Linked DNA regions of Homo sapiens. The protein of the gene in region 7 purifies or fractionates together with the protein of the main gene of each other region. This does not show direct contact. Each region holds a gene or a part of one and is shown on either strand. Other genes may lie near its edges.

Evidence for each region.
Region 1: the proteins of TKFC (region 7) and GBP1 fractionate together in Homo sapiens (co-fractionation; one large-scale study listed by BioGRID). This does not show direct contact.
Region 2: the proteins of TKFC (region 7) and AGL fractionate together in Homo sapiens (co-fractionation; one large-scale study listed by BioGRID). This does not show direct contact.
Region 3: the proteins of TKFC (region 7) and ACAT2 fractionate together in Homo sapiens (co-fractionation; one large-scale study listed by BioGRID). This does not show direct contact.
Region 4: the proteins of TKFC (region 7) and NIT2 fractionate together in Homo sapiens (co-fractionation; one large-scale study listed by BioGRID). This does not show direct contact.
Region 5: the proteins of TKFC (region 7) and FERMT2 fractionate together in Homo sapiens (co-fractionation; one large-scale study listed by BioGRID). This does not show direct contact.
Region 6: the proteins of TKFC (region 7) and SMS fractionate together in Homo sapiens (co-fractionation; one large-scale study listed by BioGRID). This does not show direct contact.

The regions. Positions count from the first base shown.
Region 1 is NC_000001.11:89,055,209-89,058,708, reverse strand, and holds part of GBP1 (guanylate-binding protein 1), read left to right. Parts: intron 1-474; coding exon 475-717; intron 718-1,574; coding exon 1,575-1,855; intron 1,856-2,480; coding exon 2,481-2,693; intron 2,694-3,493; coding exon 3,494-3,500.
Region 2 is NC_000001.11:99,919,861-99,923,360, reverse strand, and holds part of AGL (glycogen debranching enzyme), read right to left. Parts: intron 1,828-3,500; coding exon 1,710-1,827; 3' UTR 1-1,709. UniProt on the Homo sapiens protein: Multifunctional enzyme acting as 1,4-alpha-D-glucan:1,4-alpha-D-glucan 4-alpha-D-glycosyltransferase and amylo-1,6-glucosidase in glycogen degradation.
Region 3 is NC_000006.12:159,768,545-159,772,044, forward strand, and holds part of ACAT2 (acetyl-CoA acetyltransferase, cytosolic), read left to right. Parts: coding exon 1-84; intron 85-3,500. UniProt on the Homo sapiens protein: Involved in the biosynthetic pathway of cholesterol.
Region 4 is NC_000003.12:100,358,757-100,362,135, reverse strand, and holds the end of NIT2 (omega-amidase NIT2), read right to left. Parts: 3' UTR 501-3,379; downstream 1-500. UniProt on the Homo sapiens protein: Has omega-amidase activity. The role of omega-amidase is to remove potentially toxic intermediates by converting 2-oxoglutaramate and 2-oxosuccinamate to biologically useful 2-oxoglutarate and oxaloacetate, respectively.
Region 5 is NC_000014.9:52,857,051-52,860,550, forward strand, and holds the end of FERMT2 (fermitin family homolog 2), read right to left. Parts: intron 3,416-3,500; coding exon 3,291-3,415; intron 2,665-3,290; coding exon 2,523-2,664; coding exon of another isoform or gene 2,511-2,522; exon of another isoform or gene 2,256-2,510; intron 1,501-2,255; coding exon 1,327-1,500; 3' UTR 223-1,326; downstream 1-222. UniProt on the Homo sapiens protein: Scaffolding protein that enhances integrin activation mediated by TLN1 and/or TLN2, but activates integrins only weakly by itself. Binds to membranes enriched in phosphoinositides.
Region 6 is NC_000023.11:21,947,209-21,950,708, forward strand, and holds part of SMS (spermine synthase), read left to right. Parts: intron 1-3,500. UniProt on the Homo sapiens protein: Catalyzes the production of spermine from spermidine and decarboxylated S-adenosylmethionine (dcSAM).
Region 7 is NC_000011.10:61,343,228-61,346,484, forward strand, and holds part of TKFC (triokinase/FMN cyclase), read left to right. Parts: intron 1-114; coding exon 115-231; intron 232-628; coding exon 629-748; intron 749-908; coding exon 909-1,046; intron 1,047-2,032; coding exon 2,033-2,139; intron 2,140-2,234; coding exon 2,235-2,338; intron 2,339-2,484; coding exon 2,485-2,518; intron 2,519-2,629; coding exon 2,630-2,719; intron 2,720-3,067; coding exon of another isoform or gene 3,068-3,097; exon of another isoform or gene 3,098-3,123; coding exon 3,124-3,257.

The DNA.
Region 1 (3,500 bases), on a different chromosome or scaffold from region 7:
CTTGCTGAATATCCAAATTAATAGATGTTATTTTAAATTACATTTGTCATTGTTCTAGAACAAGTTTCTTGTTCTTTCACCTTTGTGTATGCTGTGATTAGGTTAATTTTATCTCCCTGCCTAGGGTTTGTGATCTTCTACTTAGCCATAGAGTATGGAGTACAATGGATATTTATTTAAAGAACATAGACTAAAACATGAACCGTGTGCTAGTCCAAGCATTGGCAAACTACAGCCCAAGACAAATCATGGCAAATCCTGCCTGCCAGCTGTCTTTGTAAATAAGGTTTTTTTGGAATAATGCTATGCCCATTCATTTACATATTGTCTAAAGCTGTTGTCATGCTTCAATAACAGAGTTGAATACTTGGAAAAGAGACCATCCAGCCTGAAGAGCCTAAAATATTTACTATTTGGCCCTTTACAGAAACACTTATATTAGGCAATTTTATAATTTTTTAAATGTTTTTCTAGGTACCAGTCAAAAAGATGAAACTTTTAACCTGCCCAGACTCTGTATCCGGAAATTCTTCCCAAAGAAAAAATGCTTTGTCTTTGATCGGCCCGTTCACCGCAGGAAGCTTGCCCAGCTCGAGAAACTACAAGATGAAGAGCTGGACCCCGAATTTGTGCAACAAGTAGCAGACTTCTGTTCCTACATCTTTAGTAATTCCAAAACTAAAACTCTTTCAGGAGGCATCCAGGTCAACGGGCCTCGTAAGTCCCCTTCCTAGTACTTCTGCTCATTGTTTAAGACTAGAGGAGCATAGAATAACTTCCACCTAGTTTCAGCATTGAAAAATCCCAATCTACTGCTATATTTGTGTTAAATTCTAGATGGCACCAATGTTTCTAACATATATTGTTAGTCACATTTCCAGTCTAGGAAAAGGCCAAAGGAAAAAAGTTCTATTGCTTGAAATTGCCCTAGTGAACTGGACCTGCACTATGCAATAGAGTAGCCCCTAGACAAGTGTGTCTATGTAAACATAAATGTAAATAATTTAAATAGGGAAAATTTAAAAGTCAATTCACATGCCTGTATTTCAAGGACTAATATTTACACGTACTTAGTGACTAGCACACTGAAAAGCACATATACAACATTCCCAGCATTACAGAAAGCGCTTTTGAACAATACTGCAATAAAATAAACTAAATGGATGACTCTTTTTTATTGGAATAGTGTCATTTGTTTCATACATATTGATCAAATGCTTACTATGAATAGACTGAAGATACAGATATAAATGAAATAGATATGGTTCCTGTCCTAATGTTGGTTGGGGTTAAAATGGATGCAAACATTCAATTAACACAAGTCTATGTAATCTAGTACAAGAACTCTCAAATGTTGGTATGCATACATATCTTCTGAGGATCTTACCAAACACAAAAGTCTAATTCAATAGATCTCGGACAGGGTCTGAGAGTCTATTTCCAGCAAGCTTCCAAGTGATGCTGAGGACATTGATGCTGTGAGGAAAATAGGTGGTATTTGACATGCTCAGAATTACATGGAATAGAGACTTTCTTTACCACCAGAAACATTATCATTTGTTCTTCATATGCAGGTCTAGAGAGCCTGGTGCTGACCTACGTCAATGCCATCAGCAGTGGGGATCTGCCGTGCATGGAGAACGCAGTCCTGGCCTTGGCCCAGATAGAGAACTCAGCTGCAGTGCAAAAGGCTATTGCCCACTATGAACAGCAGATGGGCCAGAAGGTGCAGCTGCCCACAGAAACCCTCCAGGAGCTGCTGGACCTGCACAGGGACAGTGAGAGAGAGGCCATTGAAGTCTTCATCAGGAGTTCCTTCAAAGATGTGGACCATCTATTTCAAAAGGAGTTAGCGGTAATTTTTGTCTCAAATGTATACGGTTTAGGGTCATAGAAGCTAAAGTACCACAAGGAAAGAAAACTATTATTTATTTTGACGGAAGTAATTCCTCCTAGCTTCCATAATGGTGAAAACAACAGATTTGTGATCACATCAGTCAGAAGGACCAACTGTATTATTACAGACCCAAAGTTCTAAAACATTTTTTCCTGAATAATTTTCCCTTTACTTATGCATACAACTGACAACCAGAGCTTCTAATAAAATTACCTGCCCACTCTTCTCAGACTGATTTGATATTCTAGCCAAACACAAAGAAAATTTTCATCCTACTTATCTTGAGCAGGCTTCCGTTCAGCCACATTTATTCCATATGAAATCATTAGTCCAATATGCAAAAACAGAGTTTTCCTCTAACAGTTGACATAAAGCTATCAATCTCAGCCCTGAACCTCACCTCCAAAAAGAAAGCGACTTCAGCAGAAAGTGGGGTCAGAAGGAAGAGTGTGGTCCTGGTGAGGAGGCTGTCAGTTTCTCCAGCATCATTGACTTCTATTTTCAGAAATCGTTCCCAAAATTCTGAGGTCAAGCTAACATCCTTTCCCTGTTACTCTTTTTACTTCCTATTTTTACATTAAAGGCCCAGCTAGAAAAAAAGCGGGATGACTTTTGTAAACAGAATCAGGAAGCATCATCAGATCGTTGCTCAGCTTTACTTCAGGTCATTTTCAGTCCTCTAGAAGAAGAAGTGAAGGCGGGAATTTATTCGAAACCAGGGGGCTATCGTCTCTTTGTTCAGAAGCTACAAGACCTGAAGAAAAAGTACTATGAGGAACCGAGGAAGGGGATACAGGTAACCAAGATTTATCTGTCAATTATGGAAAGCTGCTGACCTGCCTCCTACAAACACCAAGGTGACCAAGCTTCACTGCATACAGATGTGCTTTTTTGTTTGCATAACATTCATGCTTTTATTCAATAACATATGCAAACAGGCTGTTATACCAGATATGTCCTAGGTGCTCATCAAAGAGAGTGCAGTCAATTAACTATTAAGTTATAAATTCAATTAGCAGATGAAGCACAAAGTTATTATTGTCATCATTACAGCTGGGCTTTTCCTGTTGCAAGAGACAGGAACCCAATGATGGCTGCTTAAACAAAAATGTAATTCATTGATTTAGGCTGCAAACTGGCTTTACAGGTCAGGTGGGTCTAAGGTTTCAAGTAACATCATGAACTGGCTCTCTGTCCAGTGTTCCCCCATCCCCACAGTTTTCTCCCTCCCACCATCCCTCTATCTGAGTCACTCTGATATTTGCTTTCTCAATGATGGCTTCATTCCCCAGCAGGCTCAGCCCATATGGGACCACAGCATTAACAGTTCCAAACTTAGAGCCCTTAATCTAAACAGGACAGAGACTCTCCTTTTCCCAGTATCTATATTAGCCTACTAAAAATGACTGCTAAGTAGGATGTTCTGATCGGCTTGCCAGGAGCATGTGTCTGTCGCTCCGACAGGGAATTTGACCACCAAGGACAATAGGGCCAAGAGAAAGAATTCCCAGAGGAGAAAGGATGGCAGGAAGACAAACAGGAACACCTGCTTACAGCCATTTCCTACTTCTCACTCTGTGTTCTCTGGGTCCTAAGGCTGAAG
Region 2 (3,500 bases), on a different chromosome or scaffold from region 7:
TGAATATCAAAGTTAGGGTACAGCAACAAAACTACATAAACCTTTGATAAACTAATGGTTCTCTCAAGGACAGTCATTCCTTTTACCCGCACAGTTTAGAGAAGGGTATATATTGAACAAGGAAGGAACTGAAGAAGAAAGGGAGATTTGGAAACCAATGTCCAATGTATTTATAGATAGTGGTCAGATTACTGTCACAACTGTCCTTAAATTTGTAGGATTTAATCTATTTTAGTTTTGGAAACCAGAAAACTAAGCTAGTTAAAACTATTTCTAAAGCAAGGTCAGCTTTGAAGAAGAGCAGGCAGATAATCTTAAAGTAAATTACACGAGCTTTCAAGCATGGGTATTTGACATCTGAAGCATTTATATATTTTTGCTGCCCAGAAGTTTTAGTTTGCTGGTTTTCTTCTTTAATTTCTTAGTCATAGTTAAGGTTTTGGGTATGTAACCTGTAAACTAACTAAAAAAATGCTACTTTGAAAGTAGCATTATTTTAAAATACCATTATTTTATTAGGTATAAATGAGCCACTGAATATTATATAGCAATGAAAGAATTCTTGCCACTACTTTCTTCCAACTGAATGCATAATGATTTAACTGTTTTCTTAAGAAAACAGTAAAAAACAGTAAAAAATTCTATCTAGGAAATAAGTTCTATGAAAAAATGTTAACTCATGTAAATGTTAAAAACCTTTTTCCTTTTGTGACTTTAAGATTTTTAAGGCATCTTAAAATAAGTTATCATGAAAAACTTCCAGTGATTTTATTGAATTTAAGATATCTACTGAATTCATATCCATATTTTTGTTAAGATTCTTCTCAATGTTAAACTTGTCAATGTAGGTTTTGAGTTAATAGAAAACCAGTATCTACTATGATCTAGCAATAGATTTTTGAACATGACTAAAGATAGTTGAGTTTTAGAAAACTAATATAACATTCTTTTTTCTTTAAAGTTCTAGAAATATGACCGACAATTTCCATTTTGAAAATGTAAGCTATCTTATAATACTCAATAGAACTCAATACTAATTTTACAAAACTGTTTTTAGGAAATAAATTTCCTAATGCTTTGCATGTTTCCTCACATAAGTAAATCATATAAAATATACTGTTGGCATTCATTACACAAAAATTAATATATCAGTGAAAAAATGAAAGCATAGTTTGAACATCTGTGCTCCATTTAGGAACATATATTGTAGATGGAAACTTCTATCATTCATCATTTATTAAATATTTATTAAATGCAGTGAGCACTGTATTAAGAATACTATAGTACGTGGTGTTAATATTAATGAACCACAGCGTATTCAGTATGTATTGTTACTGAAGATTATATATACCACAATTAAAAGCTATCTTTTCATTTCTTTCATTATTTTCATATTTTATTTTCATTTCTGTACAAATAGAAGATGACATGATTTTTCTTTTCCAAACTATGGATTTCTAGGCATTTGAATAATTCTTACTGAACTCAAACACATTTCATTGGTAATGATATTTCTTTCTGATTCAAATTGAAATCTACCTCTGTACATTAAAAAAAATCAATGCTTTTACAATCTTACCTAATTGAGCATCAATATTATAATAAATGAGATTTTTAAAACAACTTGAGCCTGTGCATATAAGGCATTTACATATGATGACCTTGCATCCTATAATACAAGTAATTGCATACTTAATATCTGTAATAAACTATAAATCATAAAGTGTCTCAAGAATAGTAGCAATTGACCAGGCTTGTGTTTCACAGCTGAAAGGACAGTACTGGGCATTCTCATTGGTCAGTTCTGGAAGTCCTTTCCAAGGGGATCTGAATGAAAGAAAAGACATTTTACAAAGACATAATTTAATTCATATTAACAAAATAGGCAAGACCTGGTGATTTTTGCCTTCTAGTGTAGAAAATAATCATATGTAGTCATTTGCTACAAAATAAAACAATATCCTAAAGACATACAAATGAATTTAGACTGAAATTATTCTTTGACATTCCATCTTTGGAATTTGAGACTTTTAAATACAAGGAATCCCTTTATGTATTAAAAACATAGAAGAAACTACCATTACAAGCTACATATAAACATAGAGATAAATACTCTCTCAGGCATAATTTTGTTTATGAGACTCAAATTGTAATTATGCAGATGTGTTATGTGTGATCTTGATAAAACTGTAAAAGTAAAAGTAATGAAGAAACACTAAGAACTATGATTAGGCGGAAAAATGGCATTCCAGAATACTTTCTACTTAAAGAAAAAAATGCCAATTAATTTCTCTTTCTACTGAATAATAAACTTGGTATTTATTATGCATTTATGTTCTAATACTGCTTTTATGTATATTATCTCATTTAATGTTCACAGTAACCCTGTAAGGAAGGTACCATAAGTATTCCTATCTATAGAGAGGTAAGAGAGATTTATAGAGGTTAAATAACTTGTTCCAGCCCTCCTTATCAGAACACAGTGATGTTAGCACATCAAATTTATTGTTAATTTCAATGTAATCCCTTAAAAATGAAAACAAATTCAAAAAGTACAGACATCTGTAATGTTTCATTTTTAAGTTGGGTTGTGGGAACATATTTGTTTCATTACTATGGTTTGTATCTCAGGGCTATATTACATACACGCTTCAGTGGGCATCAAATACTTCATAGTAAAAATGGGAAAAAATAATCCCATTAGGTAAAACAGGGTATTTTGGATAATAACTAATATCAGCTAGGTACCATATTTAAAAAACTGTCATAGAAACATGGAAAATATAGAAAATGTATGTTTCCAAGTATTCAAGCTACATCAGAGTAAAATGCCAAATGACTGAAGTTGGATACCTGGGCATCTGTAATGTGTTGAATTACATCTCCACAGAATTTGTATGTTGAAGTCCTAGCCCCGAGTACCTCAGAATGTGAACCTGTTTGGAAATCGGGTCACTGCAGATGTAATTAGTTAAGATAATGCCACATGAAGATTGGAGTTTTGCTGCCACAAGCCACAGGATTATCAGCAGCTAGGAGACAGGGCTGGAAGAGACCTTTCCCTAATGCCTTCAGAGGGAGCATGGCTCTGCCCATGCCTTGATTTTTCAGATTTCTGGCCTCCAGAACTGTGAGACAATATTCTGCTGTTTAACAATTTCTATTATTTAAGTCACTCAGTTTGTAGTGCTCTGTTACTGCAGCTCTAGCAAACTAACAGATACCAAAATTAAAAAACAAAATGAGGTTACAAAACCATGAATATGCTGCCCATAATTACACTTGGACACTAGGACATGGAATGTATCCATACAAATATAAGGAAGTCCCCTTTCCCTTGCTTTCCTGAAAAATTCATCCTGAAGTCATTAGGTGGGACAGAGCAAGGTAGGTGACCAGAAATGGAGGGGAAAGGGTAATAGGTAGTATGGAGCAGGATGTTAGAGTCCAAGAGGTATGAAGAGGGAGTCCACCAAGGGTGAGAGTGGTCCAGAGTGGGT
Region 3 (3,500 bases), on a different chromosome or scaffold from region 7:
AGATAGGTGAGATGCCACTGACTGACAGTATACTCTGTGATGGTCTTACAGATGCATTTCACAACTGTCATATGGGTATTACAGGTAAGGCAGACATGGCTGAAACTGTATTAGCTTTAAAAAGGTTAAAAAGACCATATACTAATCTGCTTCTTAGGTGCTTTCGTCCTTATGGCCAGAGACTGTCTTAAGGATTTTTATATCTCTTCTTTGATTAACTGAAGTGAAGTAAGTATTCTCTTCTTTGTGAACTCTTGATTATCAGAGAATGTTAGAAGTGGGAAGTACCTCAGAGTTCTTCTGGATCAACCCCTCATTTTACCAAATGAAGAAACAGGGCCCACAAATAGTGCTTCTGTGGCAGAGGTAGTGACAGAGATAAACCAGTTGTTTTTTTGGTACCTAGCTGTACTTTTTGTACTACACAATTGGGTTATTGGTCATTCATGCTGAAGGGTCCTGTGGTCTAAGTTTAATGGCAAAGCAACTGGGAAATCAAAAGCACTCTTGTCTTTAGTATACATGTAAAACTTAAGAAACAGAATAGACATTTTAGAGTTAAAGAATCAAACCCTGAGAAGTTAAGCACCTTGCTCAAATGCATGCAGCAATGGCTCTGGTTTTATGTAACACATAAATATGTGAAAAAGGTAATGGGGAAAAGTACAAGATTCCAAGAGGGAACTGTGTGCATGAATGCTAGGAAGGAAGGAAGGGCTTAGGGATATGGGAAGCAATGAGAAGCTCAAGGCATCTTGACCACTTCTCGACTTACAGCCACAACAGAGAAGGCTATAAAAACACAGGCAGACAATGGAAGACACTGTGTGACCAACTGCCTCAACCATAACTAGAGGTGGTCATTAAAAATTCAGATCCCGAGCCCTTTCCAAGGTGTACTGTGGATTGAATGGTACTCTTCCAGCCTCCAGAACTGTAAGAAAATAAATTGCTCTTCTTTAGAAAAAAAGAAAAGAAAAAAGGCTCAGGTCATGATGGAGTAATTGACAAAGATTAGATTTCCTACTATAAACAAGCATAAAACTTGTGAAAATATATAAAGCCACTGTTTTATGTATGTCAGGTTTTGACTAATACTCATGTAAGACTGAGATCCTTGAGAGAAGGGAAAACCCCACTGTCACTGTCTCTACCCAGGGCACTTCCCAAACTGTGTTATGGAGAGGCAGAGCCTAAGCTGGAAACAGTGGTCTCAGTGATCTGAAGAAGCAGAGAATTTGGGGCTTCTGAGATGGCTGGAGTTTGTGGGGCAGAATAAGGGGGAGAAGAAAAAAAGAGCTCCAGAAATCTGCAAAAGGTTCCCCTTAAGTCTTTGATCAAATACTAAGCTTGTAGATAACAGCTTACAAGGCCTAGTAGAAAAGAGCTGCAAAGGAGAGGTGAACTGGAGATTTTATAGATTACTAGGAGATAAAAGTTCTGGACAAGCGAGTGGAAACCTTACTGAACTCCTTGGACACTCCATTGACATCTCAGAAAGACCACAGTTTAGGGGTAGGGCCAAAGCCATAGAGTAAAAGCTACTCTAGACCCAAACTAATAAGCTTAAAAACAAGCCTCAAAAGGATCAAGGTGATTTGCCAGTATTTTGACTGCTTGTGGAAACAAAACTCAATATATTCTCTAAAGATAATAAAATCTCTATGTCCAGTTATGTAGCAACTATAATGTTCAGCATGCAATGAGAACTTTCTAGATACACAAAGAATTAGGAAAATATAGCTTACAACCAGGGTGGAAAAAAACCACAACAGTCAACAGACCCTGCAATACTAGAATTATCAGATGAGGATCTTAAAGGCTCTATTTTACATATGTTTAAAGATACAAAGGAAAATATAATCTTCATAGAGGAATAGATGTGGACATCTCAGGAGTAAAAGGAAAAAATATAAACAAGAACCAAATAGAAATTCTAGAACTTGCAAAGTACACAATCTGAAATTAAGAATTCACTGGGATGGGGCCGGGCATGGTGGCTCGCACCTGTAATCCCAGCACCTTGGGAGGCTGAGGTGGGAGGATCACTTGAGGCTGGGGGTTTGAGACTAGGCTGAGCAACATAGTTAGACCTCATCTCTAAAAAAAAAGAAAAAAAAATTCTGAATGGCCTTAACAGCATCTTGGAGACAGAAGAAAAAGGGTCAGGAAGTTTGAAGATAGATCATATACACGACCTGAAGAACACAGAGAAAAATAATGAAGAATAAATGAACAGGCCAGGCACGGTAGCTCACGCTTGTAATCCCAGCACTTTGGGAGGCCAAGCCGGGTAGATCATCTGAGGTCAGGAGTTCAAGACCAGCCTGGCCAACATGGGGAAACCCTGTCTCTACTAAAAATACAAAAATGAGCTGGATGTGGTGGCCCATGCCTGTAATCCCAACTACTTGGGAGGCTGAGGCAGAAGAATAGCTTGAACCCAGGAGGTGGAGGTTGCAGCAAGCTGAGATCACACCATTGCGCTCCAGCCTGGGTAACAAACAAAACTCTGTCTCAAAAAATTAAATTAAATTAAATTAAATTAAAAAATAGGCCAGGTGTGGTGGCTCATGCCTGTAATCCCAGCACTTTGGGAGGTCAATGCAGGCAGATCACCTGAGGTCGGGAGTTTGAGACCCACATGACCAACATGGAGAAACTCCATCTCTACTAAAAATACAAAATTAGCCAGGCTGGTGGCGCATGCCTGTAATCCCAGCTACTCGGGAGGCTGAGGCAGGAGAATCGCTTGAACCTGGGAGGCGGAGGTTGCGTTGAGCTGAGATCACGCCATTGCACTCCAGCCTGAGCAACAAGAATGAAACTCCGTCTCAAAAAAATAAAATATAAATGAACAGAGCCTTGGTGGTCTGCAGGACAAAATAAATAGGACTAGCATGCATGGAATAGGAATCTCATACATAAGGAAGAGAGAGAATGGGGCAGAAAAAAACTGAAGAAAATTTCCACATTTGGTGTGAAAAGAAGTTCAAAGACCAAGATAGACAAGGGAAAAATTACACCTTAGCAAATTGTAGCAAAAAGTTAAAAAAAGATCATGCCACTGCACTCCAGTCTGGGCAACAGAGTGAGACTCTGTCTCAAAAAAAAAAAAAACAAGAGTGAAAGTGAAGAGCCATTTTTAGATGAAGGAAAATGAATTGCCTGCACACCTACACTACAAGAAATACTAAAGGAGCCAGGCATGGTGGTATGTGCCTGTAGTCCCACCTACTCAAGAGCTGAGGCAAGAGATTGCTTGAGTCCAAGAGTTTGAGTCTAGCCTGGGCAATGCTATCATAGTCTACTATGATTGCACCTGTGAGTATCTACTGCATTCCAGTCTGGTTAACATAGTGACACAACAACAACAACAACAACAAAAGAATAGCTTCCAGCCGGGCGCGGTGGCTCACGCCTGTAATCCTAGCACTTTGGGAGGCCGAGGCGGGCGGATCATGAGGTCAGGAGATTGAGACCATCCTGGCTAACACGGT
Region 4 (3,379 bases), on a different chromosome or scaffold from region 7:
TGGCCACAAGCCAAAGAATGTTGGCAACTACCAGAAACTGGAAAAGGCAAGAAACGGATCCTGCCCTAGAGCAGAGTGCCAACACCTTCATTTTGGCCCCATGAATTTGGACTCCAGAAGTAAAAGAGAATAACTTTGTTTTTTTTCAGCCACTAAATTTGTGATGATAGTTTATTACATCAGCCATAGTAACAAATATTCCTTTGGCTATTGTGTACAAGCAGATAAATGGTTTAAAGGAATGCCTTTGAGTATGCTAAAGTAGAATGACTTCATATACACACAAATTTTGGCCAAAGATGGTTTAGGCAGTGAATGTACACCCATGCCACAGACTGGAGTTTTCATCAACAAGTGGGGGTATTTGTGATTTAAAATATGAATGATTGCACTATAACTATCAGACCAAAAAGCTGCCCTTCAGGTATAAAGTAAAAATTGAGATCCCTCTGCCAATATTCTACAAGAGACATCAGAAAGAAGGCACTGTTTTCAGACTCTTAGCATGAAAATAACTAGTCTGGTTTACTTCAAGGTGATAGTGCACAAATCATATTAGGAGTTGACAGCTATAGATCCTTCTCAAAGGTCTTCATGCTGGAGGGCCTGCTGATCACTGGGATAGAAGTAGCTGTGGTACCTGGCCAAGGGGAGGAAGCTGAACATGGTGTATGCTTGGGGTCAAGATGATTGCTGCCTTTCAGAGCTCAGGATACATGGCTCAAATTTCTCCATTTCTTTTGTTGGTGCTTAAAGATAACCTGTGCAAGTGTTGTCCTGGAAGGCTATGAAACAGCTTACCTAGAGCAAATACAGGAAGACCATGACTAACATTGGCTCTTGGGCATTGTTTTAGAGGGCGAAAGGTTTAAAGCAAGAATGCAGCATGGTAGGATTCTCTGCAGAGATGATCCATGGCCTAAATTATGAACTGCTATATTAAATAACTTTTACCTGATTTTATTTCTCAATATTGCTCTGTGTCAAGAGCTGTAAAAGGTCTAAGATGTTACCCTTCTTGAAAACTAGTTTTCTGAATGCTGGCAGAAGACATGAGACTCCTGGGTCAGACAACAGACTTAATTATTTAGAACATAGCAAGCAACATGAGTTTGAGCCACAGATCCCATGGGAGTGACACAGGGCAAGCTAGGTGGATACTGCACATGCAGTGGGTTTGCGTCACAGCCCAAATCTAATGAGGTCACAAGCAAACTGGCCTGACTTTCGCATTAGAGGGAAACACTATTTTGACTGTATCAGATAGTAAACAAACCTGTCCTATGATCCAGAGGAAGATAGTCTCTACCTTCCAAAGCTGTCATTATATGAACATTCTCGATTGGATAGTTTGGAACAAAACACCAATGCCTCTACTCACAAAATGTATGGAGAACTGACTCCCCATCTCTATGTGTTCTTTTATGCATCTCAAGCTTAGTTTTTCAGCAGTGTAGAGCTTTACAGTGTCTGCCTTAGACAACAGCATGATGCAGGGAGAAATTACTGGCCTGAGCATCAGGTGACCTTAGCTCTAAATCAATACTGCATTTTTTTTTTGATACAGTTTAACTCTGTTGCCCAGGAGTACAGTGGTGTGATCTTGGCTCACTGTAACCTCCTCCTGCCTTACCCTCCCGAGTAGCTGGGATCACAGGCATGTGCCACCACACCCGGCTAATTTTTGTATTTTTAGTAGAGATGGGGTTTTGCCATGTTGGCCAGGCTGGTCTTGAACTCCTGACCTTAAGTGATCTGCCCATCTTGGCCTCCCAAAGTGCTGGGATTACAGGCGTGAGCCACCATACCCGGCCTCTGAATTAACACTGCTTTCACTGCTTTCTAATGGAGCTAAGATCTTAAGTAAATGAATATTCAGCTCTACAGCATATGAAGTTACATCACGTCCCAGGCTCTTCCCAGATCAGACTCCCTTAAGGTAAGGAAATCATTCCAGAATTATTTGGCCAGAACACTTGGTGAGAGAGCAAGTGCAACCTGTAGGAATAAATTCATTCCAACTCAACATTTACTAAGCACTCATGATGGTGAGGGTTAGCCATAAAAAGATGAACATAGAGGAGCTCAAAAACTGAGTTTTGGTGGGCTGGATAGTAAATGAACCTGTCATATGCTTCAGAGGAAGGTAGTCTCTAAAACAGAAGTACAATGTAGTGCCATGGAAACAAGAGTAATAAATTGTGCTAAGCATTAAGGAATAAACAGGATTTAGGTAAGGAGCTTCCAGAATGTGGGGAAACAACCACAACAAATCTAAATAAAGGCACAGCATGAGTGTGAGCTGAAAATGAGGCATTCAAGGTAGAGTCCAGCAAAGTGAAGTGGTTGTTTTTAAACGAGTGGGGAAAAGCCAACAGGAGAGCTATGTGAATGAGAATTATCGGCATATATTGAAGACCATGCATGTAGCTGAGATTCCTCAGGACAAAATAAAATGTAAAGGAGCTAAAATAAAACTATTAATATAAGGGCCTTTAACATCTAAGGGACAATGTTAAGTGGTGAGAGAGGCAGTATGAGCAAGGTCACACCAATGGTGTTGAGAGAGGCCACATGGACAGGTCTACAAATCGGTCTTTAGTAATCTGCCAGAAGAGTGTCACTGGACAGATGAGGGCAGAATCTGCCTGCCGGGGTCTGAAAAGCAATTGAAAGAAACTAAGAAATTGGGTGAAAAAAAATCAGGAAGAGTACTTTACAGGATGGCGTGCTCTTTGTTCTGAGGGAGAAACTTTGAGAATGAATCTACAGACAAAAGACTTAAAGCCTAGTTAGCACAACGGGATATACTTGGAGGATTCAATATGCTTCAGGAAGAGCTAGGATGACAACATTTGGAATTACTGGACCCTGCCCACCATGTTCTGTTCTTGCAGATTCTTGTTCATTTGATTATGAATCAGCTGTGAAGTAAATCATTGAACAAGAAGCACTGTCTTTGTATGTATGTGTTTTAGTTATTTGTACATCAGGGGCTTAACTTTTTAATTGGTGATTTTAACAAGACCATTTTATCCTAAAGTGCTTTCTATTCCAACAGCTGGCTTTTTCTTAGTCTCCGAACTTCATTCACAAGTAGAAATGAATGAAGATAATAATTTGATAGGAAATGTGAAACTGTCACACACAGGTGGTTATGAGGCATAAGGAAGAGCCCCTGTTTAGCCTGCAGCACACACATCATTTCCCTTTCTATCCCTCCTGGCTTCATTGTACCCACGCACCACCAAAACTTACACAGCAATGCCTAAAAAGTAGCACAAAAGACTTAAAACCAGTGCCAATAGAGCAGAACATTTATCTTGAAACCTAAACTCTTGTCTAAACTTTTTTCCACTTGGTGTACTTTGCACAGACC
Region 5 (3,500 bases), on a different chromosome or scaffold from region 7:
TAGATATTACACATTCATTTTTAAGTATTAAGAAAATGAGGGCTTTTCAATTGAGGTGAAAGACTATCTTTGAGATAAAGTATCTCTATCTGGCAACGCTGTGGAATACTAACCAGTTGTTCTCACAAAATAACATGCAGGCAAAGCAATTCCAAAAGGCAGAAGTTCATTTCTACTAAATTAATACTATGTAAACATTAAAAACAAGTACAAAAATAAATATTAAATAAAAGTTTTGCTTTTATTTAAAATAAAATGCATTTATACAGTCTTTGAACCATGGATTATTGAACAATACTGGTAATCCACCTCTCCCTCGCACCCTTTTGGGCTATGTGAGCTAGGAATTTTCTGACTAGCACCAATACAGATTGTAACAGCGCAACAGACTAGAACATGGCCAGTCCAGGCATTAGAGTTAAGGACATTGTGGCAAATCATGATCATAATGAAGTCATTCTTAATTTAGTAGATATTAAAACTGCACGTTAATTATATCTCTTAAAGGCATTTAATTAACGCAGAGATTGCTACATTTAAGCCATCTGCTAGTTGTGAGTAGTTTTTAAAAAACTGTACAATTTTATAAAATTTGTGTTTTTACATTAGTTACACAAAATGCATACTTCATAGAACTTTACTTCATATTGTAATGCAAAGAGTTGCATATTTTAGGCAGACAGTGATTATGCTGGTGAATACTAAAAGTGTAATACAATATGGTGTAAAAATAAAAACACGAGACAATATACATAACATGCTTATTCAAGGACAAAAACAAATCAAGCACGACGGACTAATAGCATTTTCCTTCAAGGTCAAACACAATGACATTACTAAATATCAGGCCTCCTGCATGCCTGATTTATTTGGGGGTAGGGGGAGGAATTAAATGGCTACCAGAAGTAGGATATTTTAAAACATGATATCAAATTAAACATACATTAAATCACATGCATTAGACATGATAAATAGAGTTCATATAGGTTAAGCCCTGGATAGCTTTAAAATAGATGGCTTGTTTCTTACAGTTTGGCTAGCTTAAATCAGTAAATCAGTGATGGTTTGTTCCTGATTTGCCCACTATTTCAGTTTTCAATTCATGGCCCTAAGGAATGTGTGACAAATTCAAGTTTATTATATCATAACATGATAGATTAATAGTCGTGCTTGTTTAGTGCACATATTAACTGGTCTGGTAAGGCAAAGAAGTTTTCATGATAAAATGATAAATTTCAAGCTTACTTTATTAAGCAGCATATAACAAACAGCTTTTAAAGTTAAATATTGTTATGGCCGTGGAGTTTCATTAAACAGTATTCCTATTCACACCCAACCACTGGTAAGTTTGTAGAACATCTCTTCATCTAAACTCTCGTTTTGGTCTTTTGCACGTGTTGAGAGAAATATGTAGCCACCAATGAATTCATGAACCACTTTGCAATCTACTTCAGTACAAATGAAGGACAATCGTACTTCATCTGCAAACTCTACGGTGACCTGGAACAAAGACAAGAGCCATCAGTGCTGTCCCAAATGCTAGGTGGCTGGGTCCACACAAAACTACTGTGCTACTTAAAGTCTGTCATATCACAAAACACTTGTTGATCCTCAAATGATCAGTCTGTCTAAAACCTAAACGAATAATGCCTTTAAGTCCCAAAGAAGAAGCTAAGTTTATTGCCCTTCCCCTACACTTTAAGTTTTCATGTTCTGAAAAGGAAGACTAGGAATGCAAGGGTTTTAGGTCGTTCAGTTCTCAAATGGTCTCTGGTGATTGATTCAATTAATGAGAATGCCTCTCTTCAAGTCGTGCAGGAAAGCCTACTTCCTGTGTTTTAACGTTCGCTTCAGATACTTAAATTTTAGGTATCACGTTTGAGTATTTCAGAAATATAAGATTCTTTGAAGTAATAGGAATTGATACAATAAATCCAATATGATGCTAAACCAAATGACTTATTAGTAAAAGATGGTTCATTTTAAATGATACTCGTATACTCCAAGACTGGGGGCAACATGATGTACAGTGGTAAATGTGCCAGGTTTTTAAGCCTAAAGCATCTGAGTTTGAAATGATTCTGTAGTTACTTTGTGCGTGGTCATAGACAATGATGGCCCTCAGGTCTCTCTATTGCAGTGTCTTCATTTGTCCAACTGCCTTAAAAGGCTGTGATGAGGTTTAGAGACAGGGTACTAATGTAAGCCTCTAAGTATCATGTCTGGCACAGGGTAGGCATTCAACAAACAGTAGCTGCTATTTCAGAGTAGATCGGCTTTATCCATTACAGAAAGACAAAAAAGGCAACATTCTAAGCAAATTATGCACTTAGAATTTTAGTAACTGGGCTAATTATGAAATAGGCAAATTTAAGTGAGAAATGAATAGTCAACCATGGTCTGTCTGTACTTTAAGAGGTGGTGGTACAAATAATCATCAGAATTTATAGGCCTTTTTATTCTTAATGTACTAATTTGTATCAGAGAAGGACTATATTCAAGTAACATTGTTATGAGTTTACCATTTTGATTTCCCAGTTGACATTCCACTGTTTCATGTTGCTGAAACGCCATGTTTTAATTGCATCTCCAGTGCTGGCATCCATCCGAATCAGTCTGTTGTATGCAATTCCAATAAGTTCTTCTTTTTTGCCCCCTTGGAACCTATAACATTTAAGAAAAGAACGGTTAAAAACATGTTGTGGGGGAACATGTTGGACTGCTTTTCTTCAAGATAAGTGTTCTCTCTAACCCTAAAAGAGTACTATTCTTTTTTTTTTTTTTTGAGACGGAGTCTTGCTCTGTTGCCCAGGCTGGAGTGCAGTGGCGCGATCTCAGCTCACTGCAAGCTCCGCCTCCTGGGTTCACGCCATTCTCCTGCCTCAGCCTCCCGAGTAGCTGGGACTACAGGCGCCCACCACCATGCCCCACTAATTTTTTGTATTTTTAGTAGAGACAGGGTTTCACCGTGTTAGCCAGGATGGTCTCTATCTCCTGACCTCGTGATCCACCCACCTCGGCCTCCCACAGTGCTGCGATTACAGGCGTGAGCCACCGTGCCTGGCCAAGAGTGCTATTCTCTTAGTAGTAAAACAAACACAATTATCTTGAATTTTTAATGTAGAAATTAAAAGCTTACAAAATACATTCTAACAGTCTTTGAATTCTATTGTAATATGAGTTAATGGGTCTACATAGGTATGCTTTAGATGTTTAATATCTAATTACATGAGGTAGATTAAGCAAAAATGCAGATTAAGGTTTACACATAGATGCTTAGAACCACTGACCTTGCAATGAAGTGAGTGATGCCAAATTCAGGTAGTGACTGCCAAGCTTGAATAAATCTCATCTTGGCTTCAATTAGACTCATCTGAGCTACATTCTGATGGGCCTCCAAGATTCTCGCTGTTATCTAAACATGAGTAAACATCACCTTTACCATTGAACATTATTCTCTCATGGGAGAACTGAGACAAAAGATCAAAAGATTGAATTAC
Region 6 (3,500 bases), on a different chromosome or scaffold from region 7:
TTATTATCCTGTCCCACTACACTTTAATCCCCCATTGTGATAACACCGCAGGCACAGACGCTGTTGCTTTAACAATGCAGCCTTTCGGGGCTGATGACTGGGAGTGGGGAATGCATGCTTGGGCCCTACTCTACACGGACTGAATCACAGTTGGTGGAGGGGGGTGAGTTCCTGGATTTTGCATTTTTAATCATCTGCCTCACAGTAATTCTGTTGCTGATTAAAGTATGAGAACTCCTCTAGTAGGTTCCTTATTTAAAACAACAACAACAAAAACTTGTCTGAAACCTTTGGCACACCTACCTCACTCAGCCCAACCAGTCAGCCTAGTCAGTCTCATTAAGTCCTGTGGCTTCTGCCTGCCAATGTTCTCAAATTTGTTGCTCATCACCTGTTCCTTACTTTAGTTTCCTGGCTACAGTCTCCCCATTTGTCTCCGTTTGGGGATGGGCCCGATCATTAGGAACTCAACAGGATCCCTGTCCCTTTTCCCATTTAAAAACTCTTCCGTGGGTCCCTATTACCCCATGGATGAAGTCTAAACTCTGTATCAACACATACAAGGTCAATTTCTACCCGGTTTTTCCTCTTCCCCCAGTATATTCCTTGTGCTTCCCGGTAGCCAGGAAGCACCTGGACTCAGGATTTGACAGCTTTGGAGAAGACTTTTTTGTGTGCTTTACATAGGAATTCTCATGCGTTAATTGTGTTTGAAAATATTTTATGGGCTGCTTCCGGGAGATCCCTTGTTGGCATTGCCTTCCTTTGGCATGCGCTTTTGCTTTGTGATTTTTTTTTTAAATGCTCTTTTCCCAACTCTGCAAAAGATTCTTAATTGCACAGGTTATGCTCTATATGACTCCAGGCTGAATAACCTCATGTTGCCGGGAATTAGTTTTGTGGGCTTGCCATTAAAAAATTGAGTAAACCACAATGATTCTTTTTAGATTGTAGTTTCCAAGTTATACCGATTTCCTTAAACCTATGGAGGTAGCATATGGTAAGATTTTAGTTTCTACTTCATATCTGTAATCCTCATCTAGTTCTCATTGGGTAGTTCAGTATTTAAAATGCTTTGGAAGGGATGACAGCTGTTTAAGAAATTGACTCCATAATCAAGGCGCTAGGAGTGACCCCCATCCTGGCTAACAAGAGAGGGGTACTTTTTCAAGTAATCTGAAGCCCCGCATGAGACATTCTAATTTAATAACCAGTAGTCAGTCAATGTGTCTTTTTTTTTTTTTTTTTAAGAAAGTCACTTTTGCATTTGCAGTGGAGGAGTTACCAATTGGGAATCTTCTCATCCCCTTAGTATGTAATTTACTCCGTTTTGTTTGAATTGGTAGTTTCAGGCCTTAGCTACCTTCTCAGGAGATAAAGATTAAAATGCTGTGTTCTCTAATAGCTTTAAAAAGTTAGAGCTTTTGATTTTGGATTTCATACCCAGAAGATTGGAGATTATGGGCTTTATAATTGCGATCACCATGGTTATGCTAACCTTTCACAGATAAGGATTAGTTATAAAGTTACTAGCATCTGTTTAAAAACGTCAATAAAGTTCTTAGTTTAGTTTTTGGAGTCTGCATATTCCAGGTGTTTTAATTCACTATTTCACTGCAGTTGTAACCTAAGCCTGCTGGTGTGCACTGTGGCTCCGACCACCATTTCATGGTATAGACTCAGTTCTTTTGAAAAGTCAGAAAACCTCCTCAATTGAATCTGCGAACCACGTATGTAAACCATGCACAAATGCTCTTTAAAACCCTTACAGCTAGGCACTTTTCCAGACCCCAGGAAAAACAACCCTGCGGCCCTGAGGTGTGGTGGGCCTGGGTTTCATTAAATTGACACTGTCATCTGTGTTCCGGAAGGAGCCACCGAGCTAGCTAGTGGTGATACTGGTGATAAATGTGTTTACGTGCTAAGCCACAGATTCAAAAGGAGCTGGTAAGAGCCAGTAGCATGTTCTAGATTCCTGAACTGACTTGACTCTGGGTAGTTTTACACACACCTTAATTTTTCCCTCTCCATGAAGGTGCTAATGATACTAAAATCCCACACACTGTGTCGTTGGGTGGAATGTCCAATAAAATGTTTGGAAGAGTATCAAATGATACATAAAATACCTAACACTAATTGCAATACTTAGGGCAGAGTACTTTGAAATTGTGCCAGTGGATAAAGATGCTCAGTTATAAAGAGGTGTGAATTTAACTTACTTGAAGGGTAACGAAAGCTCTGCTGGCAAGAGAAGAGGCAGAAAATAATGGGTTGCCCTGTGTTTTGAAGGTTGGTCTACTTTATTTAAAGGGCTTCCTCCCTAAGTGATTAAAGCAGAATTTTAAAAGGACACTTTGATTTAAGATATCAATTACTTGTGTTGCATGACTCCATTTTTTTTCATAAATGAAAATTTCTCCAGTGAGAATCCTGAGCAATTCCTAGAACACTGCTGTATTTAATTCTGAATTCTCCCTTCTAGAAGGACTGTAGATCACAGTGTTCAAACAAGACTTATGTGCCTGTGGGCATTCCAAATTCCTTTGCTGGCCTTACAGTGCAGAGGTGAATATAGAACTGTTCCTCAATCCTTTTTCTTAGAGTACAGGTTGAGCATCCCTAATCCGAAATGCTCCAAAATCTGAAACTTTGAGCACCGACATAACACAAAAAAATGCTGATTCGGGATTTCCAGATTAGGGACTTTGAGTCAGTGAGTGTGATGCAGATATTCCAAAGTGGAAAAAAAAAAAAATCCAAAACACTTTCGGTCCCAAGCATTTTGGATAAAGGATATTCAACGTGTATTTTCAGGGCCAGTGCCTTGGATCATGCTTTGGAAAACAGTAGTGGCATAGTTTTTTGTTTTTGTTTTTCAAAGATGGGGTCTTGCTGTGTTGCTCAGACTGATTTCGAGCTCCTGGACTCAAGGGATCCTCCAGCCTGAGACTCCTGAGTCACTAATGTTACTGGTGCACACTGCAGTACCTGGCTGAAGTTTTATAAATGGCTTAACACTGAATCTTTTAACTGTATAAGGCAGTAGCTAAGTGGCCCAGTTGCATGTGGAATTTTGAGGAAGATGGTCATGGGTTTCTCAGTCCAAGTGTTTGTTCCTACGTGGGGGTTTGTCTAATTTGGAGCTGGAGGCTTGATGTTGAGAAGAGAGAGGAAAGAGCTTACTATTAACTCCCTTTGGTATGAGATGCAAGAATATGACAGGACTTTTTTTTTTTTTTTTTTTTTAATTTGAGTTCTGGGATGCAGTACAGAACGTGCAGGTTTGTTACATAGGTATACATGTGCCATCGTGGTCTGCTATACCTATCAACCTGTCATCTAGGTTTTAGACCCTGCATGCATTTGTCCTAATGCTCTCCCTCCCCTTGCCCCCCACCCCCTGACAGGCCCAGGTGTATGATGTTCCCTTCCCTGTGTTCATGTGTTCTCATTGTTGGGCTCCCACTTATGAGTGAGAACATGTGGTGTTTGGTTTTCTG
Region 7 (3,257 bases):
GGACATCTCCCTCCCGACCTCAGAGCCCCAGCTTCCAAGGTCCTTGCTTTTCTGTTGTTTTCTTTCCCTGATGCCCATTTTTCCCTTTTGGACTGCCACACTCTGGTATTGCAGAGGGCCGCGGGGTGAAGATTGCCCGTGCCCTGGTGGGCACCTTCATGTCAGCACTGGAGATGCCTGGCATTTCTCTCACCCTCCTGCTGGTGGATGAGCCTCTCCTGAAACTGATAGGTGAGACTTGGAACCTGGGGTCACCCAAGCCAGGGCTCCTTGTAACTGGAAGGAGCCAGGGAGACTTGGAGACCCCGTCAGGGCTGACCGTGACAATCAGGGCTCTGGAGCCTGTGAAGAAGGCTCTTCCTGGGCTTCTCCAGCCTTCTCCAGCTCTCACTGGACTAGAAGGAGTTGGTATTAGGATCCTCCTCAGAGAGGCCTGACCCTTTCCCAGGGACCCTCTCTCCATACCCCTGTATACAGTAGGCACTCAGTCCATGCTTGTCGAGGTGGACTCCCTTCCTCCAGGGCTGCTGAGAAAGCCAGGCCACCAGGGTCAGGATGGGAGGGTCCAAGCCCTGCTGAATCCCTGGCTGGACAGCCGTGTCTAAGAGAGTTATCTTGCTGCCCTTAGATGCTGAAACCACTGCAGCAGCCTGGCCTAACGTGGCTGCAGTCTCCATTACTGGGCGGAAGCGGAGCCGGGTAGCCCCTGCCGAGCCCCAGGAGGCCCCTGATTCCACTGCTGCAGGAGGTACCAACCCCTGCCTTTGGGGAAGGGACAGGCTTCCCAAAGGATGCAGGAGTATACGGTGGGGCGGGTAGGGGCCCTGGCACCCACACCTCCCACCATAGTCAAGTGTGGTTGTGAGAAGGGCCTGGTGGGCCTGTTCTTCAGCATCCTCCCTTTCTAGGCTCAGCCTCGAAGCGGATGGCGCTGGTGCTGGAACGGGTGTGCAGCACTCTCCTGGGCCTGGAGGAACACCTGAATGCCCTGGACCGGGCTGCTGGTGACGGCGACTGTGGCACCACCCACAGCCGTGCGGCCAGAGGTTGGTGCCAGGGACTTTGCCAAGTGAGGTCATTCACAAAACCTTAGCCCCCCTTCCACTTGTTTCCCTGAAGGCAGGGACCTTCCTTTTTTTTTTTTTTTTTTTTTAAGAAGGAATCTCACTCTGTCGCTAGGCTGGAGTATGCAATGGTGTGATCTCGGCTCACTGCAGTCTCCGCCCCCCGGGTTCAAGTGATTTTCCTGCCTCAGCCTCCTGACTAGCTGAGATAACAGGCATGCGCCACCACGCCTGGCTAATTGTTGTGTTTTTAGTGGAGACGGGGTCTCGCCATGTTGGCCAGGCTGGTCTCTAACTCCCCACCTCAAGCCATCCGCTCGCCCTGGCCTCCCAAAGTGCTGAGATTACAGGCATGAGCCACCACACCCGGCCGACAGGGACCTTCTTAACACCACAAATGTATGAGGTTGTTATCTTAGAATTAAATGAAATCCTTCACAGTGAATAACTTACAACTCAAGGCGAACTTATTCTGTTGTCCTTATTTTTCTCAGTTTACCCAGACCAGTGAAAAGCTCTTAACTGTCCAGCATCATTCATTCGAGAAAAAGGTATTTGGTGCCTGCCGTGGGGCAGGCACTGCTCTCAGCTGTGGATACAGTAGTGAACAGAGCAGACAGAAATCACTGCCCTCATGGCTTATGTTCTAGGTGGAAGACAGTCAACCAGATAAATCAGTAAAACACAGAGGATGTTAGCACAAAGGGCTAAGGAGAAAAAAACCAAGCCAGGGAGCAGAGTACAGAGCGTCAAGTGGAGGGCTTCGGGGCAGGCCTCACCTCCCCAGGCCCCTTTCGGTTACGCAGCCCAGCCCCTCTCCAGACTGCACACTGGATGTGGAAAGGGATCTTGGGAAGCCTTCATTCCACTTCCCTGTCGGCCTTTTCCAGCCTTCATTGGTGCTGGCTGGAAGTCTGGCAGATGGAGGGAGGATCTCTGAATTCCTCCCCATCTCTCTCTGCCTGCAGCAATCCAGGAGTGGCTGAAGGAGGGCCCACCCCCTGCCAGCCCTGCCCAGCTGCTCTCCAAGTTGTCTGTCCTGCTCCTGGAGAAGATGGGAGGCTCATCTGGGGCGGTGGGTGCCTGGGGGCTGAAGGGCTGACAGGGAGGTGGCTGGGCTGGCTGGGGTCCAGGCCAGCACCACATGCTCAGCGTTGTCATCTTCCCCAGCTCTATGGCCTGTTCCTGACTGCGGCTGCACAGCCCCTGAAGGCCAAGACCAGCCTCCCAGCCTGGTCTGCTGCCATGGATGCCGGCCTGGAAGCCATGCAGAAGTGAGCCAGAGCCCTGTGCATCAGACCAGGGGTGGGCTGGGGGAGGTGTTTGGTGACATCTGCGCCCTGCCAGGCCCTAGCCCAACCCTCAGAGTGATTCCCTTGGTTCCCTATAGTGAGCCTCTTTCACTCTCTTTCCCTGCCAGGTATGGCAAGGCTGCTCCAGGGGACAGGACTATGGTATGTACTCAGGCTGTGGCCTCAGACCTTTCTCCTTTTGGCCCTGTAAGTCTAAAGAGCACCCTCGGTTGCAGGGCCCGTGCTCAGCCCCCTTTCCTTCACCTTGTCCAGCTGGATTCTCTGTGGGCAGCGGGGCAGGAGCTCCAAGCCTGGAAGAGCCCAGGAGCTGATCTGTTACAAGTCCTGACCAAAGCAGTCAAGGTGAGTGAGGCTGGGCCCAGCCACCTGGGGAGACAGGCTTCTAGCCAGCAGACTCCTGTCTCCATGTGACCCTGAGCAAGTTAATAACCTTCCTGGACCGCAGTTTCCTTCTCTGTACAATGGAGATGAGCACCTATCTCAGAAGGTGGTTATGTGGCTAAGGAAATATGTAGAGCCCCGCACACTGCCTGGGATGTGACAGGGCCTCAGTGAATGGTGACCCTTTTCCCTGCTGGAAGTAGATGAGAAGTGACTTTCCATTTGGTGACAGAGCAGAGGGTGCTGGCAGAGCCAGGGCAAGGGCGTGCAGGGCCAGGCTGCACGGCAGAGACGTTCTGCCCATGGCAGGAAGGAGGCGGCCTGGTGATCTGCCCTTGAACCTGCTCCCACACCCCATCCCCCAGAGTGCCGAAGCTGCAGCCGAGGCCACCAAGAATATGGAAGCTGGAGCCGGAAGAGCCAGTTATATCAGCTCAGCACGGCTGGAGCAGCCAGACCCCGGGGCGGTGGCAGCTGCTGCCATCCTCCGGGCCATCTT